Homo sapiens: one gene and its partners. The protein of the gene in region 4 interacts with the protein of the main gene of each other region in a pairwise test. Each region holds a gene or a part of one and is shown on either strand. Other genes may lie near its edges.

The links.
Region 1: the proteins of NEK7 (region 4) and C11orf65 interact in binary tests that used the Homo sapiens proteins (3 or more experiments, as listed by UniProt).
Region 2: the proteins of NEK7 (region 4) and PPEF1 interact in binary tests that used the Homo sapiens proteins (3 or more experiments, as listed by UniProt).
Region 3: the proteins of NEK7 (region 4) and MMAB interact in binary tests that used the Homo sapiens proteins (3 or more experiments, as listed by UniProt).

The regions. Positions count from the first base shown.
Region 1 is NC_000011.10:108,400,460-108,409,496, reverse strand, and holds part of C11orf65 (protein MFI), read left to right. Parts: intron 1-2,347; coding exon 2,348-2,401; intron 2,402-2,533; coding exon 2,534-2,734; intron 2,735-3,937; coding exon 3,938-4,068; intron 4,069-9,037. UniProt on the Homo sapiens protein: Acts as an inhibitor of mitochondrial fission. Interacts with MFF and prevents DNM1L recruitment to mitochondria, promoting a more fused mitochondrial network.
Region 2 is NC_000023.11:18,709,305-18,718,341, reverse strand, and holds part of PPEF1 (serine/threonine-protein phosphatase with EF-hands 1), read right to left. Parts: intron 1-9,037. UniProt on the Homo sapiens protein: May have a role in the recovery or adaptation response of photoreceptors. May have a role in development.
Region 3 is NC_000012.12:109,551,178-109,556,504, reverse strand, and holds the end of MMAB (corrinoid adenosyltransferase MMAB precursor), read left to right. Parts: 3' UTR 1-2,790; downstream 2,791-5,327. UniProt on the Homo sapiens protein: Converts cob(I)alamin to adenosylcobalamin (adenosylcob(III)alamin), a coenzyme for methylmalonyl-CoA mutase, therefore participates in the final step of the vitamin B12 conversion.
Region 4 is NC_000001.11:198,159,219-198,168,255, reverse strand, and holds part of NEK7 (serine/threonine-protein kinase Nek7), read right to left. Parts: intron 1-9,037. UniProt on the Homo sapiens protein: Protein kinase which plays an important role in mitotic cell cycle progression. Required for microtubule nucleation activity of the centrosome, robust mitotic spindle formation and cytokinesis.

The DNA of each region.
Region 1 (9,037 bases), on a different chromosome or scaffold from region 4:
AAGTATGATTTCTACTGAATGCATATCACTTTCACACCATTGTAGTCAAAATTGTAAGTTGAACCACTTTAAGTCGGGGCCATCTGTATACTTACATACCATATATACCTCATGACCTCTCATATTTCATTCCTGGGTATGTAACAAAGAGAAATGATTGTTATAACCCACAGAAGACATAAAAATGAATGTTCACAGAATGAGTAGTTTTATTCATTTTAACCCAAAACTAGAGACATATCAAATGTCCAACAATAATATAAATTGTCATATATTCTATTATATGATGGAATGTTAGATAGCAGTGAAAAAGAACTAACTGCTGCTATCTACAACTACATACACGAATCTTAGAGATTTATCACAGATTCATGTTGAGCAAAATAAGCCAAGCACAAGAGAGTACAATACATATGTAAAAATTCATGGAGCTGTACACTTAAGATCTGTCCACCTTAGTGAAAAAAATGTGTATATATTATTATGGCTCAAATATAGAAAATATGTTTTATAACAGGATCTCACACTTCATATTTGAATTCATAAAAGTTTTAGTCAAGAGAAGATTATTCTGCAAAATTAATGTTGTCTTTAAGACTCTATAGGTTGAATAACATCTATTTTCTGATCTAACCTAATATGATCAGGAGACAAGATTGAACTGTCTTCCGATAAAGGACCAAGAATTTTTTTCTCTACTTTCCATTTGGTGCTGCATACCAAACTAAAATCTAGAAAACCTATTATATACAATTCTTATATCATTTTATTTTATTTTATTTTATTTTATTTTATTTTATTTTATTTTATTTTATTTTATTTATTGAGACAGAGTCTCTGTTGCCCAGGCTGGAGTGCAGTGGTGCAATCTCTGCTCACTGAAGCCTCCACCTCCCTGGTTCAAGCGATTCTCCTGCCTCAGCCTCCAGAGTAGCTGGAATTACAGGCATCCGACACCACACCCAGCTAATTTTTGTATTTTTAGTAGAGACAGGGTTTCACCATGTTGGCCAGGCTGGCTTTGGAACTCCTGACCTCAAACAATCCACCCTCCTCGGCTTCCCAAAGTGTTGGGATTACAGGTGTGAGCCACCACGCCCGGCCCAGAATTTTAAACATGGATTTTTAAATTTAACAATAGCTAATTAGGAAAGGTCATCTACTGTTGAATTTAGGTTGATCAGTCATAATTTTTTCTTTGAATTTACCTGCAAGATAATATTTTATATGTAATATTTGAGGAGTTATTTAAAAGTTAAGTTTTATGACTAAAAAATTACTTGGCTTTTATGTTTATATATTGCATAAAAAGGAAACAGTTTGGTATCATTTTTTCATTTACCATAGATGTCCATAAGAAATTAAGTCCTTTTAGTGGGTGCAGCGCACCAGCATGGCACATGTATACCTATGTAACTAACCTGCACATTGTGCACATGTACCCTAAAACTTAAAGTGTAATAATAAAATAATAATAATAATAATAATAATAATAATAAAAAGAAATTAAGTCCTTAGCTCATAAAATATTTTCTTTTCTTTTCTTTTTTTTTTTTTTTTTTTTTGAGACAGAGTCTTGCTCTGTCGCCCAGGCTGGAGTGCAGTGGGGCGATCTTGGCTCACTGCAAACTCTGCCTCCTGGGTTCGTGCCATTCTCCTGCCTCAGCCTCCTGAGTAGCTGAGACTACAGGTGCCTGCCACCATGCCTAGCTAATTTTTTGTATTTTTAGTAGAGACGGGGTTTCACCGTGGTCTCGATCTCCTGACCTCATTATCCACCCACCTCGGCCTCCCAAAGTTCTGGGATTACAGGCGTGAGCCACCATGCCCGGCCTCATAAAATATTTTCTAATTACAAAAAAAAAATTTTTTTTAATGGCTGAGCACAGTGGCTCATGCCTGTAATCTTAGCACTTTGGGAGGCCAAGACAGGAGTATCACTTGAGGCCAAGAATTCGAGACCAGCTTGGCAACATAGGAAGACTCTTGTCTCTACAAAAAAAAAAAAAAATACAAAATTAGCCAGGCATGGTGGTGCACACCTGTAGTCTCAGCTATCTGGGAGGCTGAGATGGGAGCATCGCTTGAGCCCAGGAGGTTAAGGCTGCAGTGAGCTGAGATCATGCCACCGCACTCCAGCCTGGGCAACAGAGTGAAATCCCATCTCAAAAAAATTTTTTTAACAATTTTTCTAATTTAAAATTGATTATTTGAGGTTGGTTCACCTGACTGATTTCCTAAATAGTCAATATTTAGCAATTATTTAAAATAATAGAGTGAGAAATAGTGAATTGATACATACAGAATCCTGAAGAATAATATATAAGAATAATATATTTTCTTATAGGCAGAGCTTCTAGATGCTGCTGCTGGCATTCATGTGCGATTCAGATTAGGTGGAGTAAGTATGGATGAATGCTTATTTAGTAGTTATAAAGCACATTTTTATGAAATTGAAACAATGTAATTTTTCAAAATGTAAAACATTTTTGTAGTTACATTACAATGGCTCTTTGAACTTTTCCTTCTACAGGTTAAATTTCCACCTGATATATACTATAAGATTTTTACTCACAGACCTATTGAAGATCTCTGTGCTAACAGCCCTAGAAATTATGCAAAACTTCCAGCAAAGCATACATCTCATAATAAAAATGATCATCTTCAGGAAGAGGATCATAGTGGCTGGTATCATCGTATAGAAAACAATGGCTGGAGGCCAGTTTCTGATACAGTAAGAAAAGAGAAATGTTAATTTTTAACCTTACGTATTTAGAAACCCATTTGTCTTTTCAAAAATTAATTTTAAAATTATTTTTTAAAATAATAAATCCTAGTAATTTAATTGATAAATTTTGCTTAAGTTAGCTACTCAGGGGTTGCTAATAATACTTCAAGGCACAGCAATTTATCTTTTTCTTACTACATTTATTTCTACTTTTAATTATCAGCTTTGAATCTAGACCATCTTTAGATACTCTCTGGTACTCAGCAGATTATATACCCAGTATACGGATTGTAGAATTTGGTATGTTGAATATATTAACACTAAGTATGACCAGGCTCTGTGGCTCATGCCTGTAATCCCAGCACTTTGAGCTGAGATGGCACCACTGCACTTCAGCCTGGGCGACAGAGTGAGACTCTGTCTCAAAAAACAAACTAACAACAACAACAAAAACAAACACAAAAGAATATACCAAGTATGAAAAGTGAAAATGATCAAGGTATGAATTCATTCATTTGTTTAATAATAAACTATTGCATATCAACCATATACCAGACATTGTTCTGGATGCAGGGGATAGACTTAAGTAGTTTGCCTTTCAATTAGGGAGACAGTCAAGTAAACAGGATATTTCAGTACAGTGTGGTAAACATGTTAAGTGGTTTAATAAGGGCAAATATATAGTGTTTGGAAGGATTAACAAACTTTCCTTATTATCTAGGGTATGTGTGATAGAGCAGGGGGAATGAGTTGGAAGGGGGAAAATAGACAACCAGTTAGGAGAAAATGTCATAACGGGGAAACCACAAAGTCTTAGGACATGGTACAGGGACTTCTGCATTCCTGAAGGGTGGCTGTACTCCTTGAGGATTAGAGTCATCAAAAGCCATCAGCACTAAGAGTAGGTCAGGTCTATTCATGTGAGAAGATGAGACACTCTTAGAATATATCTGTTTATTTATCCATTCAACACTTATTAAGCACCTCAGTACACTAGTACTTTGTTGATCTATCTGTAGCATGTGCTTCTGAAGGCTGAGTGTACTACTCACCCATCACTTAATTAGAAATACCTTGAAAGTATCTATCCTCTCCTCTGTTTCTATCTTGCCATATTCCTACTGAACACATAGAAGTTCTTGTCTATTGCCAGATAACCTCACAATCGATATTTCAACATTTTGTATGTTCATTTTTGTTTCTCAATAGTTTTGGCTATCTACTGATGGTATGGTGGTGGAAGACAAAAAGGAAAGTGAATTCCATTTCTCTAAACTGAAGAGAAGGCAAGATTTGGAAAAGAAAAGAAAACTTAGAAAAATAGAGTGGATGAGGCAAATGTAAGTTGATGAAACACTTACTAAGGAAATACGTAGTATTTTGGGAAAAAAACAAATTTGAAATGAGGTATTGCTCCTCACAAGAGGGCATTAGCTGCAGGGGGTCTGCCCGCAGACCCTGACCCAAACGACAGATGAATAAAACGCACACTGACACACAGATATTCTGTTTTGCCAGTCCTGCTGAGTGTCCAACCGCCTACACACCAAGAGAGGCTTGTCACTGCAGCTGGCCCCAATCAGCTAGGGAGACTCATATTTATTCATTAAGATTAGTTAACAAAAGTTTGAGTGAACGCCATTAGAGGCTAACTGACATTGTGGACTTCCCGAGTAAAAAGCACACATCAAAGGCTTGTCTTAAGACCGCATGAGTAAACAAGCTAACTAGGTAAAACTTCGCCACATCCCGTTGTTTACTACTTTAATCTTTTTAACTAAAGTTAATGGGACCAGGCCGCCTTCGGCCCGGTCTGTTACCGAGGTCATGTGAAAACCCTCAGGCCTTCCAAAAAGGTTTTGTGGCCATCATAACTAATATTTTTCCCAGCAGCCTGATCGAATCCCAACATTGGAGAACTATACTACTTGATTTCAAGACTTATAAAGCTACTGTAATCATGACATTGTGGTATTGGCATATAGACAGAAATATAGGTCAATGGAACAGAATATGGAATTGTGAAATAAACCCCCATGTGGCCGGGCGCGGTGGCTCACGCCTGTAATCCCAGCACTTTGGGAGGCTGAGGCAGGCAGATCACGAGATCGGGAGATTGAGACCATCCTCGCTAACATGGTGAAACCCCGTCTCTAGTTAAAAATCCAAAAAAAAAAAAAAAGAAAAGAAAAAATTAGCCGGGCTTGGTGGCAGGCGCCTGTAGTCCCAGCTACTTGGGAGGCTGAGGCAGGAGAATGGCGTGAACCCAGGAGGCGGAGCTTGCAGTGAGCAGAGATCGCACCACTGCACTCCAGCCTGGGTGACAGAGCGAGACTCCATCTCGAAACAAACACAAAAAAAAGTATCAAAGACAGAAAGTGGAAGTTACAAGGCTTTTTAAGGCCTTATCTTGGAAGTCACAGCAACATTTATTTTGCATTCCATTGGTCAAACTCAAGTCCTAACAGGCCTAAGGGGGTCAAGTAAAAGGTGGGACTCACAGGAAGTTCCATATACATTACAGCTTCACTTGCAGTACAGAGGGGAAGGGAAATCCTACTGGGACAGAACCTCAAGTAGCATACCTGGTTGTATATTGTGCCTGAAAGAAAAGATGGCCAGAAGTATAGATCTATAGATGGATGGTGATTGATGGATGGTTTGACTGGATGGTCAGGGATTTGGAAAGAACATGGTTAGAAAATTGGTGACAAGTGGTCTGGGGAAGAGGTATGTGCAGACTTCTCCAGATGGGCACCAAGTGAGAAGATGCTTGTGTCGTATGTGAATGCTCACCAAAGAACAATCTCAACAGAGAAGAATCTTAATAATCAGGTGAGCAAGATGACTCATTCCTTGGAATCAGTCAGCCTTTCCCCCCAGCCACTGCTATCCTCGCACTATCCAGCCTGGGCGACAGAGCGAGACTCCGTCTCAAAAAAATAAATAAATAAACCCCCATGTATATTGTTAATTAATTTTCAACAGAGGTGCCAAGGGAACTTAATTGGGAAAAAATAGTCTTTTCAACAAATTGGATTTTCAAATGCAGAAAAATGAAACTTGAGTGTTCTCTTACAGCATGTGTAAAATTAACTGAAAAGAGATTATAGATCTAAATATAAGAGCAAAAACCATAAAGCATCTAAAAGTAATTGAAGGAGAAAATCTTAGTGCCTTTTGTTCTGGCCAAGATTTTTTAAAGAGGACATAGAAGTCAGGAACTATAAAAGAAACAATTTTAAATTTTACTTTATCAAAATTAAAAGCCATAGACCGGGATAAAACATTTGCAAAATATATATCTGACAAAGTTCTTGAATCAAGAATATGTAAAAAAAAAAAAAACAAAAAAAAAACCTCTCAAACAATCACATTTTAAAGTGGGCAAAAAATTTGAATAAACACTCCATCAGTGAAGATACATACCTAGCAAATTAGCATAACTCAACCAGTGACTATGATTAATCATTAGAGAAGTGCTAACTAAAATGATAATGAGATACCCCTACACACCCACTAGAATGACTGAAATAGTCTGTCATGCCAATTGTTGGCAAGGATATGGAGCAAATGCAAATTAGAATGTGTACTTCAGAAAACGGTTTGACAAGTTTTTTTTTAAACAAGTAAACACACCAAATATTCTACCTAGTCATTCCACCCCTACATGCTTACCCAAGAGAAATAAAAACATGTCCACAGAAAGATTGTATGTGAATGTTCATAGCTGGTTTATTTGTCATTTTAATTGCGAAAAACCAGAAACAGCACAAATTTGCATCAGCAGGTGAATGGATAAGCAAGTGGTAGGATATCTACACAAAGGAATACTACGCAGCAGTACAACAGAATGAACTACTGATAGACAGAATGACATGGACGAACCTCAAAATAATGCCGAATGAAATAAATCTATCAAAAAAGAATACATACTGTATGATTCCATTCACATACAATTCTAGAAGACACAAATCTGAAGTGACACAAATCAGATCAGTAGTTGTCTGGAGATAGGAAAGAGGAAAAAGAGAGGGATTCCAAAGGAGTACAAGGAAACGTCAGAGGGTGATGGATAGATTTATTTTTTATTGTAGTGATGGATTTACAGGTATATAGACATGTCAAAACTGTACATTGTACAATTTAAATATGTGTAGTTTATTGTACATCAACCATACCTCAATAAAATAGTAAAAAAAAAAAAAATTAAAAACCTGTGCAGAAAATCAGAAGACCTCCCTGGCAGCTCTGAAGTGGTCCTTTATCTCATAGTCACAGCATGGGTTGAGGGCAACCCTGGGTTCCATTGCAAGGGTCACAGGGTTACAATGCCTACAGTACTACCAAATGCTTAACTCTGCCAGGTCTTTTGCACTAAGATAAGGGCACTAGTGGGGAAGAAGTAGAACTCTGAGGCCTGGGATTAGGACATTTGGGCAAACATACACAAGGCTAAGAATCTTGAACTTCCAAAGTGCCTTGTTGGTGTAGGGAACCCTTACTCTCCCTTTTGAGGGAAGCGGCCCTTTTCTGCATAAAAGCCTTTCAGTGACTGCACTGGCACAGTTGCCACACACACTTAAGCTGATTCTCCTCAGGATTCCCCCTCTACTATTTCTCATTGCCTTTAGCTCACAATGAGATTTGTATTTCAGGACAGCCCAGACAGAGGTACAAGGTCCACTCCAAGAGGAGATAGTTTATAAACCAGAACAGTTACAAGAAATTACTAATCTACATTGCCAGGAATCTCAGAAGCATTGTGTGAGGGTGGATTCTAAGGTTGTTAGATCGAGAGTTGGCTGGGCCGAACTTACTGATATGGCCATACTCACCTGGGATTGTGGATTTAATGCTTTGGCCAGAAATTATGTTAATGGTCTGTTAAGTTAGCTAATCAAAGCCTGATTTAGGTAGAGCCAACCAAAGTTCTACCTTTGCAAAATGCTGGAACTTCTCTGGTATACTGTAGTGTAGCAGGATTGATAAGGAATCAGAGAGACCGATGGGGTAGAGGAGGATATTTGTTATTTTAGGTGTACTGGCCCAGTCGGATTAACATCCAAAGGACTGAGCCCTGAACAAAGAGTTAAGTTACCTTTTAAGCATTTCATGGGGTTGGGGGAGATCTGTGCAGGGGGAAGCATATTACAGAAGCAAGAAACAAAGATAGTTATTCAATTAATTGAGAAGTGCATTACATCGTTTCTTACTTTTCAAGGAAAACATGTTTTATGACTTGAGTTTATCTGTCTAGTGACCTTGCAGCTGCACAGCTAGAGAAACAGGGTCTTCACAATGCCTGGGAAAGAAGGAGAGATAAGGCTCACTAGCCACAGAAAAACAGGCAGTTAATTTTTAAAGGACTCCAGCTCTTTCTCCTTCTTAGGGGGAGTTGGGTTTTCTTACGTACAGCTGAGTTTTTGTTTACACATTCTTTTTTTTTTCTTTTTTTAATTTCTGTTCCATTAGAAAAAGGATTTCTAAAAGTTCAGGGAATTGTGTGTTTGTTTCTGTTATGTGCAATCTACTAAACCACCGTCTAGCCATCACCCCAGGAAGTTCCAGGAGATACCTTTTTCATCAAGCTATGAAGTAATAGCTTGGTGAGGGGAGCGAGGGGAGCAGCATATTTCTTTCTCTTTTTTTTTTTCTTTGAGACGGAGTCTCACTCTGTCACCCAGGCTGGAGTGCAGTGGCGCAATCTCGGCTCACTGCAACCTCTGCCTCCCAGGTTCAAGCAATTCTCCTATCTCAGCCTGCCGAGTAGCTGGGATAACAGGCATGTGCCACCATGCCTGGCTAATTTTTTTTTGTATTTTTAGTAGAGGCAGGGTTTCAACATATTGGCCAGGCTGGTCTTGAACTCCTGACCTTGTGATCTGCCTGCCTCGGCCTCCCAAAGTGCTGGGATTACAGGCATGAGCCACCACGTCTGGCCCAGGAGCAGCATATTTCTTGATGAACTCTGTGGTGGCTGTCCTTTACAAGGCTGGAGATGACAGTGGGGAAAGCTGTGATGGAACTGGTTCCTTTAGTTCACTGGGACTAATGGAACTTTGAAGTGGTAGAGGTCAGCTGATGGCACAATTGCAGCGAGGCTTCCAGATGTGGCTTCTTCAACAGAGCAAATCAACACAGCCCCTGGCACCTGGTATGCTGCAACTGACCTGGCAAATGTGTTCTTTCCCATCCCAATCACTAAGCAACAGGAGAAGCAGTCTGTATTTTCACAGAAAGAACCGTGTGTTTTTACATGTTGTTCCCGAAGATACATCACCTTTCCTGCTCTTGTCCCCAGGGGCT
Region 2 (9,037 bases), on a different chromosome or scaffold from region 4:
GCCTCAGCCTCCCAAAGTGCTGGGATTACAGACATGGCTACTACACCTGGCCTTTCTGCCTTCTAAAGGTTCACGATTCTAAAATGGATATCTAAATAGCCCCTATCAGAGTCTCAAAATACTTGAAATTTTTAAAGCAAAGGTAAATTAATCACACAGCAAATAAAAAGATGAAGATGTATTTAATTGGTGTAAAGAATAAAAAGGTTGTTGGGATGGGTTTGTTTTGTTTTGTCTGTTTCATACAGGCATTAAATGTGTTTGTAGTACCAATCCTATACAAACCTCCAGGCCAACACATTATCATATCAAACGGTGACTATTACCTAAGAATTGGTAGTGAGAGGAATCATGATTTCAGATGAAGAAAATGGTCTCCTTTTACAAAGAAAAGTACTTATTTAAAATGATTCCCAATAAAACAGGGATTAGAGCATATGATGTGGGCTGAAAATAAAGATTTGGAGTCTTGACACACTGATGTCAAAGCCATGGACTAGAAAAAGCATCCAAGGAGAGTGTTAGAGTGACAAAACCAGAGAGCCAAGGGGGAACCCAGAGGAGCCCCAACATTTAAAAGCCAGGAGAAAGTAGAGTCCACATAAATAGTTCATGCAGAGACCTAAAAGAAAAACCAGGAGAATGTGTTGCCCCTGAAGCCAAGGGCAATGAGTAGTAAGAAGGGAGTGGGCAGGAGTGCCAAAGACTGCCAGGAAGTGAGCAAAATCAGCACTGAAAATGCTCCATTGGACTTCGAGGTCATTCAAGAACCTGTCAGATCATCTTCCCTGGGCTGGGATCAAAGAGGAGGTAGGAGACAGCGGGTACAAATGCACCCCTAAGGAGCGAGCTTGAAGGGGAGGAGAGAGACGAGAGGAACTGGAGGGGATGAGAGGGCCAGAGAAGACTTATTTTAAAGGGAAGGAAAGAACAGTTACAAAGGGCAATTTTGGACAACTGGGAAATTCTGAATATGGACTACATGTTAGATAATGTTACACTATCAATGTTAAATTTCTTCAGGGTGATCTAGTATTGTAGTTATATAAGAGAATATCCCTCTTTTAGTAGATGCATGCTGAAGTACGTAGAGGTTAATTCCATAATGTCTACAGCTTATTTTCAAATTATTTCAAACGGGTGTTTATGTACTATTCTTTCATCTTCTCTGTAGGTTTGCAATTTTCAAAAATATTTGGGGAGGAAAACAAAAGCAAAACAAAATGGCTTGAGAAAAAAATATATATATATATACAAACCAAAAAAAAAAAAAAGGAAAAAGGAAAAAAAGAGGAAAGTCACCGAGCATGTCAAGATGCTGATGAGCAATAGCTAGCGGAATGAGCAGGAGAGGCAGAAGGAAAATCAATGCCCTCCCCTACCTACCCCTCCCACAGCTACAGAGCATACGGATAGTCTTAGAGGGACAATGGACTTGAAAGAGCATCTTCTCTGTCTGCAGTTCATTGAGGAGGAAAATGAGGACGGTCCGAGTTCACAGGGATTTTCAATATACCCTACGGTGGCAGTAAAGACTGCTTGATGGCTATGATAACCTAGAACCCTCTGACAAACAATAGCAAGGAGAATGGCAAGAGGCCCTCTAAACTTGGAGAAAATTCTTTAGGGAACACCAAAGATGAAAGATTTTCATTTGTTATTTTTCCATGAAGGTCTCAAACTGAAATATACATCACAGTAAAGGACTTCAAATTGGGAGTAAGGAGATGGGGATGGAGAGCCGGGAGGGGGGCTCTCAAGCAGCTGTGAATGGCTTGATTGTTCGATTTTTTTTTTTTTTTTTTTTTTTGAGATGGTGTCTCGCTCTCTCGCCCAGGCTGTAGTGCAGTGGTGTGATCTTGGCTCACTGCAAGCTCCGCCTCCTGGGTTCACGCCATTCACCTTCCTCAGCCTCCCGAGGAGCTGGGACTACAGGCGCCCGCCACCACGCCCTGCTAATTTTTTGTATTTTTAGTAAAGATGGGGTTGCACCGTGTTAGCCAGGATGGTCTCAATCTCCTGACCTCGTGATTCACCCGCCTCGGCCTCCCAAAGTGCTGGGATTACAGGCGTGAGCCACCGCGCCTGGCGATTGTTTGATTTTTAAACAGCTAAATTAACTAGATGTTTTACCAAGAATTAAAGAAATATTTAGTTTGCTATTCAGTATTTTTAAGTTTTTTTCATATAAAATAAAGAATGAGTACTTTTGAAAGGAACAATTTCCTTTAGAGAAACTTCTATTTGTCACAGCTTACGCATCAAACCACAAAGCCAAAAAAGCACGGATTGTCTTTGTCGGCCTCTTAGCACTTACAGAAATTGAATAAATACATTTCTAAGTGGTCTCAAGGGAAGAAATAAAATATATCAGTGTTTCCAAAGTGCTCCATGGGAACAAAAAGGCAATAGATTATTAATTGAAATACCATTAACATAAAATTTTAAGTGTCAAGTGAAATTCAGGAGAATGAAATTGCAATGTTTAATTTCTGTTATGTGGATAAATTCCAATTCTCCAAGTCAGGGTAGCATATCAGAAGGGCCATGAACTTTGGAATCTGCCAGATCTGGTTCCAATTCAGGCTCTGCCACCCATGAGTGTGTAACTTGGGGCAGTTAAGTCTCACTTTCCTCATTTATAAAACGAGGGAGACTAATCAAAGCTTTAAGAGTTTTGGTAAGAAATAATGAGAGTAGCAGGCACTCAATAAATGATAGCTATTATTAGTCCTCTCTTACCTGCTACATATCACAAAAGAAATAAAATAACAATGACAATATAAAATTGATGTTACTTTTTTTTTTGAGATGGAGTCTCACTCTGTTGCCCAGGCTGGAGTGCAGTGGCATGATCTTGGCTCACTGCAACCTGTCTGCCTCCCAGGTTCAGGCAATTCTCCTGCCTCAGCCTCCCAAGTAACTGGGATTACAGGCATGTGCCGTCACGCCCAGCTAATTTTTCTATTTTTAGTAGAGACAGTGTCTCACCATGTTGACCAGGCTGGTCTTGAACTCCTGACCTCAAGTGATCCACCCACCTCAGCCTCTCAAAGTGCTGGGATTACAGGTGTGAGCCACTGTGCCTGGTCTTTTTCTTCTTTTAAGAGTCAGGGTCTCACTCAGTGGTGGTCCTGGCTGGAGTGCAGTGGCATAATCATAGCTCACTGCAACCTCAAACTCCTGGGCTCAAGTGATTCACCCGCCTCTCAAAGTGTTGGGATTACAGGCGTGAGTCACCGCGCCTGGCCCGATGCTACTTCTCTACATGGAAGCTGGGTAGAGCACAAGAAAGGGAATAGCCTCGATTTTATATGTAGGTTACGCTTTCTCAAACTGCCGTGATACTCCAGAGGCAGAGTACTGTGGTCAGGTGGAACGACCTAGCAGGACAAAAAACCCTTAACACTAGTCAGACCAGTGGAAACAGGAATCAAGCACGAGCCTTGGCTCTGTGACTTGCTGTGTTCCCTTGAGGCAATCACTTTGCCTTTCAAAGCCTCATTTCCTTTTCTGCAAACTGAGAACAACCCTTCAAAAGGCTGTGAGGATCAAACGTATGTTACAGGGCCTGGCCAACTTGAAAAGCACTATGCAAATACAAGGTACTGTATATAAGTAAATTTAATTAAAGCTAGCTTCTGAAGCAGCAACATTCAGAGGTGGCATAAAATGGTGTAATGGGTGACAGCAAAAAATACTTTGTCATCAAAACTCCTTGAATTCAAATCCCAACTCTGCCAGCTGTAAGCTGCATAAACTTACCAAGTAGGCTGGGCACGGTGGCTCACGCCTATAATCCCAGCACTTTGGGAGGCCGAGGCGGGCGAACCATAAGGTCAGGAGTTCAAGACCAGCCTGGCCAACATGGTGAAGCCCCGCCTCTACTAAAAATACAAAAAATTAGCTGGGCATAGTGGTGGGCGCCTGTAATCCCAGCTACTCAGGAGGCTGAGGCAGGAGAATCACTTGAACCCGGGAGGTGAAGGGTGCAGTGAGCCGAGATCACGCCACTGCGCTCCAGCCCAGGCGACAGAGTGAGATTCCATCTCAAAAAAAAAAAACAAAAAAACGAAAAACAAACTTACCAAGTACCACACTGAGCATGAGCTGCTTCCACTATACAAACAGGAATAATAACCCTTTATTCAGGTTTATTACAAGGATTAGATAAAACATATGTAGATTATGTTGAACACTCTTTGGAATATGGTTAGTAATCAGGAAATAATATCTATCATTTTCTATCAAGAGCTTTCAAAATATTTATAGCCCTTGACACGATAATTTCATATCTAATCACCTGAATATAGAAATAATCCAAAATAAGGAAAAGGCTTTGCACAAAGAAATTCTTCAAAGTGTTATTTATATTAGTATTAAAAGGTCCAATATTTGAAGAATAATTAAGCATATTATGGCCTATTCACCAAATAAAATACTTAGCAATGACTAAAATGATGTTTGCAAAGCATTTATAACAACTTGAGAAATGTTTACATAACATTTTAGTGCTGAAAGTGAGGCTACAAAAAACTAACATTTAGGATGATCAGAAATCTATAATATACAAAAAATACATTGAAGGAAATTATCAGAATGTTGTCATTATCTCTGGGTAGTGGAATGATGAGGGAGTATTCATTATTTTCAACTGCTTTTCTATATTTTTTCCAAATATCTGAATGAGAGAAAATTTTATGCACACAATGTTTGTCTATGAATAAATATAAGTAAACATCACTGCATCAGCTTTCAGCAGATTTATTATTATGAACTCATAATAAACCTTGATTGGCATATCCAACAAGAGATAAAAGAAGAAAAAGAATTTTAAATGGCTCTTCTGGACGCACTCCATATGGGTTTGCCCTGCTCCATAAGGAGCAATGGAGCAGTAAAGAAAAAAAAAAAAAAAAAAGAATTTTAAGGGAATACTCTGAACAAGTATATGTCAACAAATTAGATAATGTAGATGAAATGGGCAAATTCCTAGAACTACCACAAATGACTCAAGAAGGAATAGAAAATCTAAATAGTCATATAACAAGAGACAGAATAAGTAATCAAAAAAACTACGCACAAAGAAAACCTCATGCCCAGATAGCTTCACTGATGAATTCTACCAAATATTTAAAGAATTAATACCAATTCTTCATGAACTCTTCCAAAAAATGGAGGAGAAGGGAACACTTTCCAACTCATTCTATGAGGCCAATATTACCCTGACAGTTAAATCAGACAAAGATATCACAAGAAAACTATAGATCAGTATCTCTTATGAATATAGTTGCAAGATTCCTCTACAAAATACCAGCAAACTGAATTCAGCAGCATATAAAAAGCATTATACACCATGATCAAGGGGATTTATCCTAGGAATGCGAAGTTGGCTTAACATCAATTAACATAATGTGCCATTTAATTAACATTATATGCCATATCATAAAATAAAGGACAAAAACCACAAGATCATCTCAATACATGCAGAGAAAGCATTTGACAAAATTAAACACCACTTTGTAATAATAAAAAAATCAATAAACTAGGAATAGGAGTGTGTTTTCTCAACCTGAGAAAGAGCATCTATGAAAAAGACACAGCTGATATAAGACTTACTGGTGAAACACTGAATGTTTCTCCCTTAAGATCAGGAACAAGACAAGGATGGCTACTCTTGCATTTCTATTTGACATTGTAGTGGAGGCAAGAAAATGAAACAAAAGGCATTGGAAAGAAACAAGTAAAACTATATTTGCAGATGACCTGGTTTGTAAATAAAAATTCCTAAAATATCCACTAAAAACCTATTAGAGCTAATGAGTTCAGTAAAGTTTTGGGATATAAGACCAATATACAAAAATCAATTTTTAAACATTTGCAATAAACAATCCAAAAATGAAATTAACAAAAATCCATGTATAATATCATCAAAAAGAATAAAAAACCTAGGTTAAATTTAAGGAAAGAAGTGTAAAACTTATACTCTGAACACTACAAGACACTGGTGAAAGAAATTAAAGATCTAAATAGATGGAAAGACATCCCATGTTCATGGATCAGATTATTTAATTGTTAATATAGCAATACTCCCCAAATTGATCTACAGATTCAACACAACCCCTCTCAACATTCCACTTGGCTTCTTTTGAGACACTGACACATTGATTCTAAAATTCATATGGAAATGTAAGGGACCCAGAATAGCCAAAATAATCTTGAAAAAGAGAAACAAAGTTGAAGAATTCATACTTCCCAATTTCAAAACTTTATTAAAAAAAGCTATAGTAGGCCTGGCGTGGTGGCTTATGCCTGTAATCCCAGCACTTTGGGAGGCCAAGGCGGGCGGATCACAAGGTCAGGAGTTCAGACCAGCCTGGCCAACATGGTGAAACCCCGTCTCTACCAAAAATACAAAAATTAGCCAGATGTGGTGGTTTGTGCCTGTAATCCCAGCTACTCCGGAGGCTGAGGCAGGAGAGTCACTTGAACCTGGGAGGCGGAGGTTGCAGTGAGCTGAGATTGTGCCATTGCACTCCAGCCTGGGCTACAAGAGTAAGACTCCGTCTCAAAAAAAAAAAAAAAAAGCTATAGTAATCCAGACACTGGTACTGGCATAAGAAAGACATACAGATCACTGGAATAGAATTGAGAGCCCAGAAATAAACATTTATGGTCAATTGATTTTTGACAATGGTGCTAAGAGGATTCAATGGGGAAAGAACAATCTTTTCAACAAACAGTGCTGAGACAACTGGATATCCACATGCAAAAAATGAATTTGTACTCCTACCTCACACCATACGTGAAAATCAGCAACTCAAAATGGTTCAAATGCCTAAAAGTAAGAGCTAAAAGTACAAAACTTTTTTTGGCCTTTAAAAACATATATATTTAGGGGGTATAAGTGTAATTTTGTTACATGTATAATGAAGTCTGGGCTTTTAGCGTAACCATTACCCAAGTAGCATACATTGTACTCATTAGGTAATTTCTCATACCTCACCCCCCTCCCACCCTCCCAGCTTTCTGAGTCTCCAGTGTCTATTATTGTATTCTGGATGCCCATATGTATACATTATTTAGCTCCCACTTTTAAGTGAGAACATGGGGTATTTGACTTTCTGTTTTTTGAGTAATTTCACTTAGGATAATGGCTTCTTGTTCCATCCATGTTGCTGCAAAAGACATGATTTCATTCTTTTTTATGGCTGAGTAGTATTCCATGGCATGCATATATATATATATACACACACACACACATATATATACATATATATATGCACACACATACATACATATATACGTATATATACACACACATACACACACACACATATATACACACACACACACTTACATATACATACACCACACATTTTCTTTACCCAATCATCCATTGAAAAACACTTACGGTGATTCCATATCTTTGCTATTGTAAATAGTGCTGCGGTAAACATAAGAGTGTAGATATCTATTTGATATAATGACTTCCTTTGGGTAGACTCCGTGGTGGGATTGCTGGATGAAATGGTAGTTTGGTAGCTCTATTTTTAGTTCTTTGAGAAATCTCCATAATGTTTTCCACAGAGGTTGTACTAATTTACATTCCCACCAGCAGTGATAAACATTCCCTTTTCCCTACATCCTTGCCTACATCTCTTATTTTTTGACTTTTTAGTAATAGCCATTCTGACCGGTATGTAAGGTGGTATCTCATTATGGTTTCAATTTGCATTTACCTGATGATTAGTGATGTTGAGCATTTTTTTCGTGTGTTTGTTAGCCATTTGTATGCCTTCTTTTGAAAAAATGTCTGTTCATGACCTTTGCCCACTTTTTAATGGAGTTATCTTTTTTTTCTTGTTGAGTTGTTACAAAACTCTTAAAGTAAGACGTGAGCAAAAATCTTTTTGGACTCGGGAATGGATTCTTAGATATGACACCAAAATCACAAGCAACCAAAGAAAAAATAAAGTGAACTTCATCAAAAGTAAAAACTTTTGTGCTTCAAAGAACACCATTAAGAAAGGATGAAGAGAATTCAACAAATGAGAGAAAATATTTGCAAGTCACATATTTGATAGGAAACTTGTATCTAGAATATATAAATTTATCTTACAACAATATAAAAATAAATAATTCAATTAAAAATGGGTAAATGATCTGAATAGACATTTCTCCAAAGCAGATATACAAATAGCCAATAAACACATGAAAAGATGCTCAATGTCATTAGTCACTACTGAAATACAAATGAAAACCATGGTGTGATACCACTTCATACCCACTAGGATGACTAAAATCAAAAGGACAGACAATAACAACTATCGCTGAAAATGTGGAGAAATTGAAACCTTTATACACTGCTGGTAGGAATGTAGAATGGTGCAGTCACTTGGGAAAACAGCTTGGAAATTTCTCAAAATGTTAAACATAAAGCTACCGTATGACCCAGCAATTCCACTTCTAGGTATATACCCAAGAGAACGGAAAACATATGTTCACAGCAGCATTGTTCATAACAGTCAAAAAGCTGAAACAGGTCGGGCACAGTGGCTCACGCCTGTAATCCTAGCGCTTTGGGAGGCCGAGGCGGGCAGATCACCTGAGGTCAGGAGTTCGAGACCAGCCTGGCCAACATGGTGAAACCCTGTCTCTACCAAAAATACAAAAATTAGCTAGGTGTGGTGGTGTGTGCCTGTAATCCCAGCTACTCCAGAGGCTGAGGCAGGAGAATCGCTTGAACCTGGGAGGCGGAGGTTGCAGCGAGCCGAGATCGCCCCACTGCACTCCAGCCTGGGTGACAGAGCAAGACTGTCTCAAAAAAAACAAAAAACAAAAAACAAAGCTGAAACAATCCAAATGTCTATCAATTGATGAATGGATAAATACAATGTGGCATATTCATACAATGAAATATTATTCCACAATAAAAAGGAATATAGTACTGATACATGCTACAACATGGACAAAGCCAGACACAAAAGGTCACATAATATATGACTCCATTTACATGAAATGTCCAGAATAGATA
Region 3 (5,327 bases), on a different chromosome or scaffold from region 4:
AGTTTAGTCACCTCTGAGCCACCCATCACCGCCAAAGTGTGGGGGAAGGATAGCTGCAGATTGACAGGCGAGGCTCAGAAACTCCTGGCTTAGATTGAAGTGTGTGTGATGGGGGTGCAGCTTAGAGGACCCCCTCTGAAAGGGATGGAGATGCTGATGAGAACAACACTACCACTTGAAGGTGAACATTCCCTGTCTGGTTGGACTGAGTCAAGGGTCTGCGGTGCAGCATCTTCAGCTTGAGAAAATGAGGTTGTCAGTTTCCAGCAAGGCTGACATCCACCAGACTGATTTCTCCGATGTTGCACTTGGCTGGCTTATGCCTCTGAGATCGGTGCCACGGCTGTATTTATTTCAGTTGTCACTGCTGCTCCCTCCTGCTATGAAACGACACTGCCAGTGCCAGCAGTGTCCTTGGGAAAGGCAATATTTATGAAGGGCAGAAGAGGCAGCCCCAAGAACCTAAAGACTGCAGGCTGCTAATTGCAGGAAATGACTTTGGAAGGGCAGGCTCTTGTCCAGTTTCAGGGCTGAAATGCCTGGCGAACTCCATTCAGCCATCACATATTGACTGAGTGGCTGCTTAGCATGGGCCACCGCGCTAGGCTCGGGACAGCTGGTCTTTCCGGCCATCTTTCTTGCTGGCAAGTCAGCAAACATTACCTTCTTAGTCACGTGCATATTTTTGCCTTCATTCTTACCACCTGGCCTGCAAAGTTTGCAGGAGGGCCAGGTATATTCACTTGTGTCTTCTGGGTCCTTTCATTGCTGACAGGCTGTGATGGCCCTCTTGAGCCTTGGGCAGGGTGGGTGAGGTGCAGATGACCAGGAGTGTGTGAATGCCTTCCAGGAGGTGGCTTTGTTCCGTGCCTCCCTGCCCCCATCGTCACTACCAGGTCTGGTACGGAGTCGGTGCTCAGTGTTTGCAAAACAGAGCTGAAAACGGACTTTGGGAGGCCGAGGCAGGCAGATCACCTGAGGTCAGGAGTTTGAGACCAGCCTGGTCAACATGGTAAAACCCCATTTCTGCTAAAAAAAAAAAAAAAAAAAAAAAATTAGCTGGGCATGGTGGCGGGTGCCTGTAATCCCAGCTATTCAGGAGGCTGAGGCAGGAGAATCACTTGAACCTACGAGGCAGAGGCTGCAGTGAGCCAAGATCGTGACACGACACTCCAGCCTGGCTGATAGAGTGAGACTCCGTCACAAAAAAAAAAAAAAAAAAAAAAAAACCCTGAAAACGCAATCACTAAGGCTCGGTCAGGGAGTATGTTCAAAGAGCTTGCAGCGAATCACTCAATTCTGTCTACACCTCAAAATCTCAAAATCTTCCTGGAATATATATATATATATAAAATAACACAGCAGCCCTGCATGCCTAGCCATGGGAAAGCACAGCCTCCAAAGGATAAGGAAAGCTTTTTGAGTAAATACAACATCCTAAAGTGACAATCTTTGAAACAAGGCCGTTCACCTGTTGCCAAGTCCTGTCCTTCCAGGACCGGGTGTCACAGCCTGGATGTTAACAGTCGCGTTCTCAGACCCCCGCCTCTGTATCTGTCTCCCGGTTCACCAGCAAACACTTCTCTGAGAAACCACCTGGGTGCAGGGCAGATGCCACCACTCAGCAGGTGTTTCTCTCCTGTGCTACCAACCTGGGAAAAATGGAGAAAGCTTGCTTTGGGGGCTGGAAGGATGGGGTGTTTAAAACATTTGCTCTTCTGCAGTGCCTTTCAAAAGCTCTATCAAGAGCCCGAGGCAAAAGAAAAGATGTGTACCCCTCTGTACACTGAGCAAATGTCCTCCCATATTTTGAACCAGGTGGGAAAAGTTAATGAAAGCCCTACAGTCAGGAAATGTGACTGCGAAGCCCCCGCTGCCCCAGTGTTTGCACACCACTGGCAACTCTCAGAAACAATCAGTCCCATTGCACGGGAACACGGGGTTTTGAAACAAACAGCAGCCTGTTTTTATTTAAAGTCGTGATCCCTTGCTTATCGTAGATTTTTTTCATAATTTGATTTTGGAAAATATTGCACACAAATACTACTCGATCCCTGAGTTTGTGGGCACTTCCTTACATTTTGCACCCATGAAAATGCCTCCTCCGCCTCCAGGTCAGGCTCCCTGGAATGGGGTGTTTAGTGTCATTTCCAGAGACAAGCTGGCAGTTGGCTCTTGTGTCAGAGAGAAGCCCACAGTCACAGTGACACCAGCCCGCACTGTGGAAGGGCTTGCTATGTGCAGTGCCCTGAGCCAAGTGTTCCACAGACATTATCTCATTTGAACCCCATAGCAGCCCTGGAAGGAGGCATTGGGTGGGGAACCAAGTTGTCCTGGGGAGTCAGTGCCAAGATGTGAGCCCCGGACGCGGCCTCGTCACTCACAGCCCCGTGCTCCTCAGCTCCCACCCACTGCCGCTTGACAGTCGTTTTAATCACTACCTGGGCTGTGGCGAACAATGCCAGGCTCTGATAGATCCTGCTGTCTCATTTCTCAACCTAGTTTCCCTTAACTAATATTTCATGGCTATCGTTAATGTGCGTTTTTCATCGAGTAATTTCCACAGCCCGAACTTGTAACACATCCCAATGACAAACGTCCCCAGTTCGGAAGCCCCCGTCAGTGGCAATGTCACCCTTGCTGCTGCCTCGACACCTTCCGACAGCCCATTCAGTTTTATGATCGCCCTGTCCCAGTGATCACTACTGAACCTTTAAGAATCCAGATGCATTTCAAGTTTAATTGAATAAAATTCTTTGTATAATAAATTCCGCATGAATGCTACATAAATCAGTGCCTGGAAGGATTTGTGGCTCATCCCTCCCCTCTGGCGGGGCCTGAGAATCTTCTGGCAATACTGACACAAGCTGGAATAAATGCATCTTTGCAGTCAGTCCAGCTAGAGGCAGGCGGCACAGTTTTAACTTGCCTTGGCCTATTGCTTTTCTTCTCTCAGAGTCCTCCTGGAAGATAGTGCTAAAGTCCAACAGAGGCAGGGACAGGCAGATTGCGGAGACCTAGAAACTTTGGGGACATCCCTCGTGTTCTCCCATTCCACAGAATCAGAAACTTCTCAAGCTGTGGTTTGTCACCTTTGGAATGCACACACACATATTCACAAGTTTGCATCCAGTCATAGGAAGTCCATGGAACCTCCCGGTAAGAATCCCTTTTCTAAGAGAACCCATGCGACCCTCTTCGGGAGCTAAGTCAGGATTCCCAAGGCTGCCTTCAGCAGCCTGTTTCAGGGTCAGATAGCTCCAGCCTGGAAGGGTGAGAAGATGCACTTGGGGCTGGCTGGGAGAGGCTGCTGGGTGACCTTTGATGCTTGTAGGGTTGTGGGGTGCAGGGAAGGACTGTCAAACAGCTGGCTTGGGCACTGGCCCCAGGCAGGCTCAGGTTCAAGGCCAGCTTTGTCACCTCCTGCCTTGGTGACTGGGCAAGTCATTCCATCTGTCTCGGTCTTGCTCCTCCACCTATAGAATGGGAATCATAACATCCACCCCATGGGTCACTGGGATTGTTTAATGAGGTAATACTTAAAAGAGTAATATTGCCCCCTGGCAAATATTAGCTCCTGTTATTACAGTTGTTTGCTATTACTACTACTATTTGAATTCAGATTCCATCTTTGTCACTTCCAGCATCTCCTTAAGCAAATGGTTTAACCACTCAAAGCCTCTTTATCTTTTATAATAGGATAATAATACCAATTTCCAAGAGTTCAGAAATAAGTCCACAGGCCCCAGACATGATAGCAGCTCCAAAAAATAGCTATTGTTGTTCAATCATATTTGACCCTTTTCAAAGCACGTTCTAAAAGCTCATCCCCAGGTGACGCTGAGGACAGCATGGCAGCACCTCTGGCCCCTCAGGCTTGCTGAGTGGGTGGGGGAGACAGGTGGCCTCCAGAGGTGGCCAGGCACAATCAGATGAGAAGATGGGGATGTGGCTCCAGGAACACAGGGCCAAAGTGAAAGTGAGAGTGAATTGCAGGACAATGAGAGCTGAACACGGTCTCAGACATCATTGCTCCCATTTTATAAATGAGGAAACTGAGGCCTGGAGAGGAGAACTATTTTTTTTTTTTTTTTGAGATGGAGTCTCACCCTGTCACCCAGGCTGGAGTGCAATGGCATGATCTCAGCTCACTGCAACCTCCACCTCCCGGGTTCAAGCGATTCTCCTGCCTCAGCCTCCTGAGTAGCTGGGATTACAGGCCCATGCTACCACACCCAGATAATTTTTTGTATCTTTAGTAGAGATGGGGTTTCACCATGTTGGCCAGGCTGGCCTCAAACTCCTGACCTCAGGTGATCTGCCCACCTCGGCCTCCCAAAGTGCTGGGATTACAGGTGTGAGCCACTGCGCCTGGCCTTTTTTTTTTTTTTTTTTGAGACCGAGTCTTGCTCTGTCACCCAGGCTGGAGTGCGATGGCGTGATCTCGGCTCAACTGCAACCTCCACCTCCTGGGTTCAAGTGATTCTCCGGCCTCAGCCTCCTGAGTAGCTGGGATTATAGGCATGCATCACGATGCCTGGCTAATTTTTTTTTGTATTTTTAGTAGAGACAAGGTTTCGCCATGTTAGCCAGGCTGGTCTCGAACTCCTGACCTCAAGTGATCCACCTGCCTTGGCCTCCCAAAGTGCTGAGATTATAGGCGTGAGCCACCTTGCCCAGCAGAGAGGAGAACTTAATAAGTACATCTTAATAAGGACCACACATAGAGCACTGATTATGTCCAGGCATCTTGCTAAGAACCTTACATTCAATAGTTCATTTAATTATGTCAAGAGCTCATGGAGGTGGAACTATTAATATTATCACCCCCAACTTACAGATGAGGAAACTGAGGCCCAGAGAGGAGATAGGAGTTTCTCAAGGTCAGACAGCTAGGAGGCAGAACCAGGCTTTAAATCAGGGCTCTGTGCCTCAAACACCATGACAGGCATTTCCTCAACACCTAGCTCTATGCTCAATTGTACTACAGTGCCAGGGTGTTCATGTCTTTCTAGTTCTCAGAACCCTACAAGGTACATACAATTATCCTCCCCATTTCACAGGTGAGGAAACGGGGGCTCCAAGGGTAAAGTCACTTGCTCAAAGTCACACAGTGTCCATGGGGGTGACACTGGGTATAATGATACTGTCAACAGCTGACACTTACTAAGCTCTCCTTACCACCAGAGCTTTTTAAACCATCTCAGCATAGCTAACCTTGGAGAGCACCTTCCTTGCATGCTTGGCATGTATTCCCCATAACAACCCCACCAAGTGGATGTTAGTACCTTTGCGTCATAGACTCAGAAACCGAGGCACAGGGAGAC
Region 4 (9,037 bases):
CCTAGGCCAGGCACTCAACTCTTAAACTGAGTTCCATATATATTACATTTAGCTCACACTAAGTGTCAGAACCTATGTTTGGCATTTGAAAAATAAAAAAATACACCTGGACTTGACCCACGATTTGAAAACTTTCTATGTCAAGCTGCATCTTCTTATAATAAATAAAGAGAAGGGGAAATGGTCATAAACAACAAGGGCTTGTGCTGTTTATAAACTCCAAATTTTTTTAAAAGGTGAAAACAAATCGCTGATAGAAAACAGTTTTAAAATTGCCAAACAGGCTTTTGAATAAAGAGCAACACTTGAATGCAAAGGCTTGTATCTACTGACAAGGAGGGAAGTTAGATGGGACTCAAGTGCCTGTCACTTGTTATCAAAGTCCCAGATGGAAATAAGACAGTCATGGAAAAAGGAACAGGTTACTCATCATAATGTTCTTGAACACTTTCCAGCGTGGCCAGACATGCAAGACAGAAAAGTCTGGTGCAGTCGAGCTGTGAAACAAGATAGAGAACTACAGGTAGGTAATGGTAACTAGAGGCAAAATCTCTAAGTGGCAAGGCAAAGAGCTTTTGCCCCTGTGCAAAAAAACACCTCAGGAGCAAGGGAAGTGGTAAGCTTTCACACCCAGTTGAGAGAAATTTTGTAAAAATGCCAAAAATGGTGAGAACAGTACACAGCCTAAGCAGTCCAGTAACAAGGGACCGTTTGGTTGAGAAGGAACTAAAACTAACACTTAGATGTACTATTTTCTTTCACCTTGCTTGAAGTGGCATTTTCTCTCCTGTTATTATCATCATCATGTTAATGAGTGCATATCATATAAGATGCCTTGGGTGCCTTTATCTCTCAGACACAACCTCCGCACAATCTTAAAATCTGCTGTTAAGACCAAAAACATCAGAAATTTGAAAATCTTTTCTAAGTAAAGAATCTGAATAGAAAAGCATAGATTTTGCTTGTTGAATTTTAAGTGTAAGAGTGATAGGCAGCAAAGGTGAGGTCATGAGGATGTCCTTATGAGAAGAGACACAAGCGAAAACACATAGGAAGAACCTGCATGTCAGAGGCAGAGAATGGAGTGATATATCCACAAGCCAAGGAAAGACAAGGATTGCTGCCAATACCAGAAGCTAAGAGAAAGGCATGAGCCACATTCTCCCTTAAGCCTTCAGAGAGAACACGGCACTGTCAACACCCTGACTTCTGACTTCTGGCCTGCAGAATGGTGACAGAATAAATTTGTTGTTTTATACCATCTAGTTTGTAATAATTTGATACAGCAGTTACAGAAAACTAATGAAGGCATATCTCATTTTATTGTGCTTCACACATTGTGTTTTTTATAAACTGAAGGTTTGTGGCAACCCTATGTGAAGTTAGTCTGTTAGTGTCATTTTTCCAATAGCATGTGCTCACTCCATATCTCTGTGTCACATATTGGATATTCTTGCAATAATTCAAACTATGTCACTATTATTATATCTTTTATGGTGGTCTGTGATCAGCAATCTTTGATGTTACTGTATTTGTTTTGGGGCACCATGAATCATGTCCAAATAAAACGGTAAACTTAACGATACATGGTGTGTGAATGTTCTGACTGCTTCACTGCACCAGCCGTTCCCATCTCTCTCCCTCTCCTTGGGCCTCACTATTCCCTGAGACACAACAATAATGAAAATTAAGCCAATTAATAACCCTACAATGGCCTTCAAGTGTTCGAGTGAAAGAAAGAGTCACCCATCTCTCACTTTAAATCAAAAGCTGGAAATGATTAAGCTTAGTGAGAAAGGCATGTCAAAGGTCAAGACAGGTCAGAAGCTAGTAGCTCAGAAGCTAGGCCTCTGGAGCCAAACAGCCAAGTTGTGAATGCAAAAGAGAAGTTCTTGAAGGAAATTAAAAGTGCTAGTCCAAAATGGTACATTATCAGTGGTTGCTGAAGCTCGGAGCTGGTCTATTACACTATTTTGTTTATTTTGAATGTGTTTAAAATTTTCTATAATTGAGTAAAACATCTGTATAAAAAGACAAAAGAAAAAAGTGATACTCAGTGAACACACCAATGATAAGAAAGTGAAACAGCCTTACGGCTGAGACAGAGAAAGTTTTAGCGGTCTGGATAGAAGATCAAACCAGTCACATTTCCTTAAATCAAAGTCTAATCCAGGGCAAGGCACTAACTCCCTTCAGCTCTGTGAAGGCTGAGAGTGGTGAGGAAGCTGCAGAAGAAAAAATGGAGTTAACAGAGGTTGGTCCATGAAGTCCAAGGAAATATGTCATCTCTATCATATAAAAATGCAAGTTGAAGCAGCAATTGCTGAAGTAGAAGCTACAGCAAGTTATCCAGAAGATCTAGCTAAGATCATTGATAAAGGTGGCTACACTAAACAACAGATTTCCAATATGGATAAAACAGCCTTCTATTTGAAAAAGATGCCATCTAGGACTTTTATAGCTAGAGAGAGGTCAATGCCTGGCTTCAAAGCTTCAAGAACAGGCTCTGGTTAAGGGCTGACGCAGCTGGTGAACCCAATGCTCATTTAGCATCCCCTGAAAATCCTAGGGCCCTTAAGAATTATGCTAAATCTACTCTGCCTGTGTGCTATAAGTGGAAAAACAAAACCTGGGCAACAGCACATCAGTTTACAGCATGGTTTTTTGAGTATTTTAAGCCCACTGTTGAGACCGACTGCTCAGAAAAAGATTTCTTTCAAAATATGACTACTAATTGACAATGTACCTAGTCACCAACAGCTCTGATGGAAATATACAAGATGATTAATGTTGTTTTCATGCCTACTGACACAACATCCATTCTACAGCCCACGGATCAAGGAATAATCCACTTTCAAGTCTTCTTATCTAAGAATACGAAATACATTTCTTAAATCTATAGCTGTCATAAACAGTGATCACTCTGATAGATCTGGGTAAAGTAAACTGAAAACCTTCTGAAAAGGATTCACCATTCTAGATGCCATTAAAAACGATTGTCATTCATGGGAGGAAGTCAAAATATCAATGTCAATAGGAGTTTGGAAGAAGTTGATTCCAACCCTCATGGACGACTTTGAGGGAGTCAAGATTTCAGTGAAGGAAGTCACTACAAATGTGGTGGAAACAGCAAGAGAACTAGAATTAAAAGTAAGCCTGAAGATGTAACTGAATTGCTACAATCCCATGATAAAACTTCAATGGATGAGGAGTCGCTTTTTATAAATGAGCAAAGAAAATGCGTCTTAAGACGGAATCTACTCCTGATGAAAATGCTGTGAACATGGCTAAAATGACAACATAGGATTTAGAATATTCCATAAACTTTTAAGCAGCAGCAGGGTTTGAGAGGATTGACTCCAATTGTACAAGATTTTCTACTTTGGGTAAAATGCTATCAAACAGCATCATATGCTACAGAGAAATTTTTCATGAAAGAAAGAGTCAATTGATGTGGCAAGCTTTATGGTTGTCTACTTTTAAGAAAACGACACAGCCACCAGCCTTCAGTGACCGTCACCGTAATCATTTAGCAGCCATCAACATTGAGGTAAGACCCTCCACCAGCAAAAATATTATGAACTGCTGAAGGTTCAGATGATCGTTAGCATTTTTTGGCAATAAAATATTTTTTAATTATGTATATTTTTTAGACATAATGCTATTGCACACTGTATAGACTACAGTATAGTGTAACTCTAACTCCCATATGCACTTGGAAACCAAAAGATTCATCTGACTCGCTTTATTGCAAGATTCACTTTATTGCAGTGGTCTAGACTAGAACCTGCAATATCTCTGAATAATGCCTGTATAGAGCTAGGGCCCACAGCATTGTTTCCTGGACCACAATAGGCAGGGTATGGTTCTAGGGTCCCCCAAATAGCAGGATTTTTCTTACTGTAACTGTGTCTTGACCAGAGCAGTGGCTGTATGGCCCTAGACCGGTGGACTTCTGATCACAGAAGAGGCAGAAACTCCCTTGGGGGCCTGGTACTGGGACATTCTGCTGGAAGCTCAAACTCCCTCACAACCATTAAATACTATTAAATGTTCAGTAACAAATTCCTTTCCACTTAAAAAAAGTGATTAGAGGAGTAAACGGGAGAACTATGTAACTAAAGACAATCTTTACTGACAGCTGATTTTTTGTTGTTGTTGTTGTTGTTGCATTTTTAGTAAAGATGGGGTTTTGTCATGTTTCCAAGGCTGGTCTCAAACTCCTGGGCTCAAGCAGTCTGCTCAGCCTCGGCCTCCAAAGCGCTGGGATTACAGGTGTGAGCCACAGTGCCCAGCCAACAGCTGATATTGTAAATACTCAAAGCCATAAAAGTGAAGGTGAAAACAATATGTCATTCAACAATAAAAAATATTTCTTAACAGTAAATACATTATTAAAACTTTATTTTAAATGCATTTTGAAAATGGAAAAAAATGTCAGTTTTCACTGAATACCACACCTACCACCAGACTACTCTAAACATATTCTAACAACAAAGACGGTGATGAGAACAAAGGAAGTCAATTTGTAGGTTGCCATGAAAAATAAGAAATAATTCGTTCCATAAACCAATCCTCCCCCCAGAAAAATCTTCTTATATAAGACCTTTCAATTTACATGTATTTATTGACTAACAAACCACACCTAGAAATAAACTGTTTGGAATAAAGATATACTATTTGCATAAAACAAATGACCTATTCTAGGTGTCTCTTTTTTTAATTTTTTTTTTATTTTTTTTAGAGACAGGGTCTCACTCTGTCACCAGGTGGGAGTGCGGTGGCATCATCACAGCTCACTGCAGCCTCGAAATCCTAGACTCAAGCCATCCTCCAGGCCCAAGCAATCCTCCTGCCTTAGCCTCCCAAGTAGCTGGGATTACAGGTGCGTGCCACCAAGCCCAACTAATTTTTTTTAAATTTTTTGTAGTGACAGGGTCTCACTATATTGATCAGGCTGGTCTTGAACTCCAGGTCTCAAGCAATCTTCCCACCTTGGCCTCCCAAAGTGCTGAGACTACAAGTATGAGCCACTGTGCCGGTATCATATCACTTTACTATATGGTCCAGCAGTTAGATATAAAGGCAATACAAGATTAGGAATTCATTACATTTTAGAAGTATAACAATTTTTCATAAACACATCTATTCAACTTTTCCAACCATAATATAAGGACATATGTCTTTGTTATGATTATAACCATAATAAAATGTATAGTAATTCACCTAGGTAAATATAAGGATATAGGGGAAATATTTCAACAATTTAAAAAAACAATTTTAAGCATGCTAGGAAGAACATTTTTAATTTTGCCAATTTTTTGAATCTGTATTTAAAGATCTTTTTGCAACTCACATTATTTGTAGTCCATAATATAACCCCCCAAGCCTCTTGTGCCTTTTTCTGCCTGAGAAACTATGGCTTGCTGGCTCTCCCCACACTCCAAAGAAAGTCATAAAAACTAACTCAAATGTAGGAACCATTAAATTTTGAATATGGAAATCACAGGGCAAAGGAAAAGGAGAATTCAAGCAGAGGAAGTGGAAATGGCAGAAGTGGGAAGCAGCCCATTAAGACAAAACTGGGCCAAGGCAGAGTGGGTGACAGGGCCTGTCATCAGAACAAACTGACAACAGGAGATGTGTTTCCCACCCCTGAAGGTCCTAAGAATAGAGAAGTAAGTGAAATGAAACTAACACTGGGCCTGCTACCATACATTTACAAAGGTATTTTCATTTACTCCTCAAGGCAACTTTATGAGTTGCGACAACTACAGTCTGAATAAAATGAGCAACTCAACCAAGGTCATAAAGTAGGCAATGACAACCCTGGAGTTTTCTGCCTAGTCTTTTCCACATCATGGTAAACACAGATAATGATAATATATGTGCAGCAGGGTCAGATAAAGAGAAGAGACTGCTTGTAGCTGGTGGCAACTAGCCAGGAATTCTGATTGTCCCAGGTCCTACCTGGGCTTCCCCGAGGGCTAAGGGGTCAAAAGTCCAGCACACACAAAACCCACTCCTGACTAGAGCTGAGAAAGTGTACTGTGTAATTTTTTCACAAAGCTGTTGCATTTTCCATTCTGCTCTATGCTACTCAGTAGCTACACCCAGGTAAGTCTACAGCTAATTCTTTTCAGAGCAAAGGTCAGAAGTACCTCTACCCCAGGCCAAACATACCTTGACTGTAGGCCCTCTGCTAAAGCACAGGCTCTTTCCAATATTTTTTACTGGGGCGGGGGAGAGTCTTTTTTGAAAGACTAAGTTAATGTTTCCTAAAAAGAAAAAAATTTGCCCAACCCCTTGCTTATGTCAAAAATTCCCTCTAAAGTAGACAAAGGTAGTCATACCAGTAGGCTTAAAATAAAAACTACTAGACAAAGAAACATATGAGTAAGTTTTGGTATGTTTCTTTGTCTAGTAGTTTTCATTTAGTAAAGACAAATGACTGACATTAGATTCTATGTCGCTTTAGTCAGAAGCAGGGAGCCACAGACAGGCATTCATTCAATGTCACAGGATAGGAGTGGGATCCTCCAGAAGCAAAGAATGGTGAAGAAACCTGAAAACATGGATAAACCTAAAAGAGGTTCTTATGCTGACAAACTCTGAAATGAAACACAAAATTTGGGAATGGACAGCTGGGTATTATTCTGAGGGAACTGTGGAAGATCAACAAATTGTCACAAGAGTCTAAGCACAAAAATAATTATAAAACGCTGTTGTGGAAAATTCCGAATCAACCCAAACATCAATGGCATAGCACCACATTTAGACCTCTGGTATTATTTTCTAGAGTGGGGGAAAGCTACCAACCTATTTGTATAAATAAAGCTTTATTTGAACACACCTATGCCCACTTGGTCAGATACTGTATTTGGCTACAATGGCAGCAGATGCAATCACAGGGCTCACAAAGCCAGAAATATTTACCATGTGATCCTTCAGAGAAAAAAATTGTGAATCACTATTCTATAAAAAAGCAGACTGGATTGAAAAAGTAGCCCTTACCCACTACCAACAGAAGACTACTAATAAGATTTACAAAAAGGCCTATTTCCATTATGTAACAGAAAACACGTATTTCTCAATTTTTATAGACCACTAAAATCAGTTTTATTCATTTATATATTGTTCCGCTTAACACTTTGATAGCTATTACAACAAAACCACTCATTGTATAACCTCATTACCTAAATAGTATGGCAGGGCAGTTATTTTGACAAAGGTTAAAAAAGAAGTTATCCTGCTCAAAAATATTAAGGAATGCTTCATGATCATCTGTCCTTCTCATTCCCACTGCCCACTGAAAAGCATGAAATATACTCTGTAAGTGTTTTCTTCAGAATAAAAAAAATTTTGTGAAAATACACAACACCTAGGAATAATCAAACTATTAATTACCAAAGGAGAATTCAGCAGTTTAGAAGTTTTATAACTCTGAGATTGAATTGTATCAATTTAAAAATTCTGAACTGCCATTATATTATACAAATGCATATATTTGATTACAATTATGTAACCAAATGTTATTCATCCATATTCCCTACAAAAATGGGTGGAGGGGGGAGAATTAAATTGAAAAAGTCTCAAAAGGGTAAAGAAATGCGTCTTAAAACATCTTGCTATATATTTACATAAATCCTGATGAAGTGCTGATAAAACAATTCGGAGCAAACAGTAATCATACATGGCATTTCCAAGACACCCTTAAGTCGTACATTAAGTTTAATATGTTTTATAGACGATGCACTGAAATACCTACCCTCGTAGTTTTCCAACAAAAATTCGAAGGGGTAAACACTTAAATGTGAATGAAACCGGGAATGAGGACAGAGTGCTGTTTTGTGCAGCTGCAGCTGCAGCTACACTGTGTATTTTTTAAATACTACACTGTGCATTTTTAAAATACCAAAGCCTATTTAAAAAAAAAAAAAAATCAAGGGAAACAAAACCTGAAAGAAATTTTGGAATTACCTACTTTTTTTTTCCCCAAAAGTGCGTAATCACTAACACTTAACTGGGCCCTGCTCTCAGGCCCAGTTCTCAGGTACCCTGAATGGTGGCGACATTTGTAATACTACAGAGGTACATTCTTAAAACATCAGATAGTTCCTAGGAAAATAGTGTTTAGTTCTGGAAACACTGTAAAAGTCTCTAATGATATCTCAGACCACATATTTAAGTGAAAAAAAGAAGTCTATATTTCAGTAAATGCGCAATAATTGAGGGGAAAAAAAAAGAATACTTAAATGTTTACAGTAAGTCAGAGCCCAAAACTATCAACTGCAAGCACCAGGAAAGATTTGGGGCATGAGGTCCTTATGAGATTAAGTACTTATTTACACAAACTGTAACTGCACTGGACTTCTGGTCATTACGATGCAATTTTTTTTTAAATTTATTAATCAGGTATGTTAGCTATAGAGGCATCAAATCTCCCCTCCTCTACTAGTACACTGCCATCATACCATATGTGCTTTCCTCATTCTTTGGGTAAGTGCTGTTTTACTGGGATGGAAATGAACTCGAAATTGTCCAGACAGGAAAATATGAAAGGGGGAAAGCAATGGTGGGTGCTACATGTATTATCTAAATAAATAAACCTAAATACTAGTTCAGACTATAAAATGAGTCTGTACGCTTAGAAATAAAGTTAGTCTTGTTAAATTGGTAAGATTTTTAACCATGGAAAGATTCCCAAGAAGTTGTGAAAACGCCTAACGATTTAGATTCTGACATTTAGTGGTTTTCATTTTCAGGTAATTTCAGAGTAAAACCCGCCTCAGTCACATGGACTATATTTAGTCTGCTGACCAACTTCGCTTCTAATCTACTATAAACTTTCAGTAGTAGTTAAGTTCTAGGTGCAGCTGAATCACGAAACGGGACACCTAGGATGGCTCAGGGAAAACTGAAGCCCCCCTCCTCCTTCCTTCCTTCCTTCCTTTCTTTCTTTCTCCAGGCTGGCCCTCAGCCTGGCGCCCCTTCCGCAGACATCCCTAGAAAAAGAACTAACGCGGCCTTCTCCGAG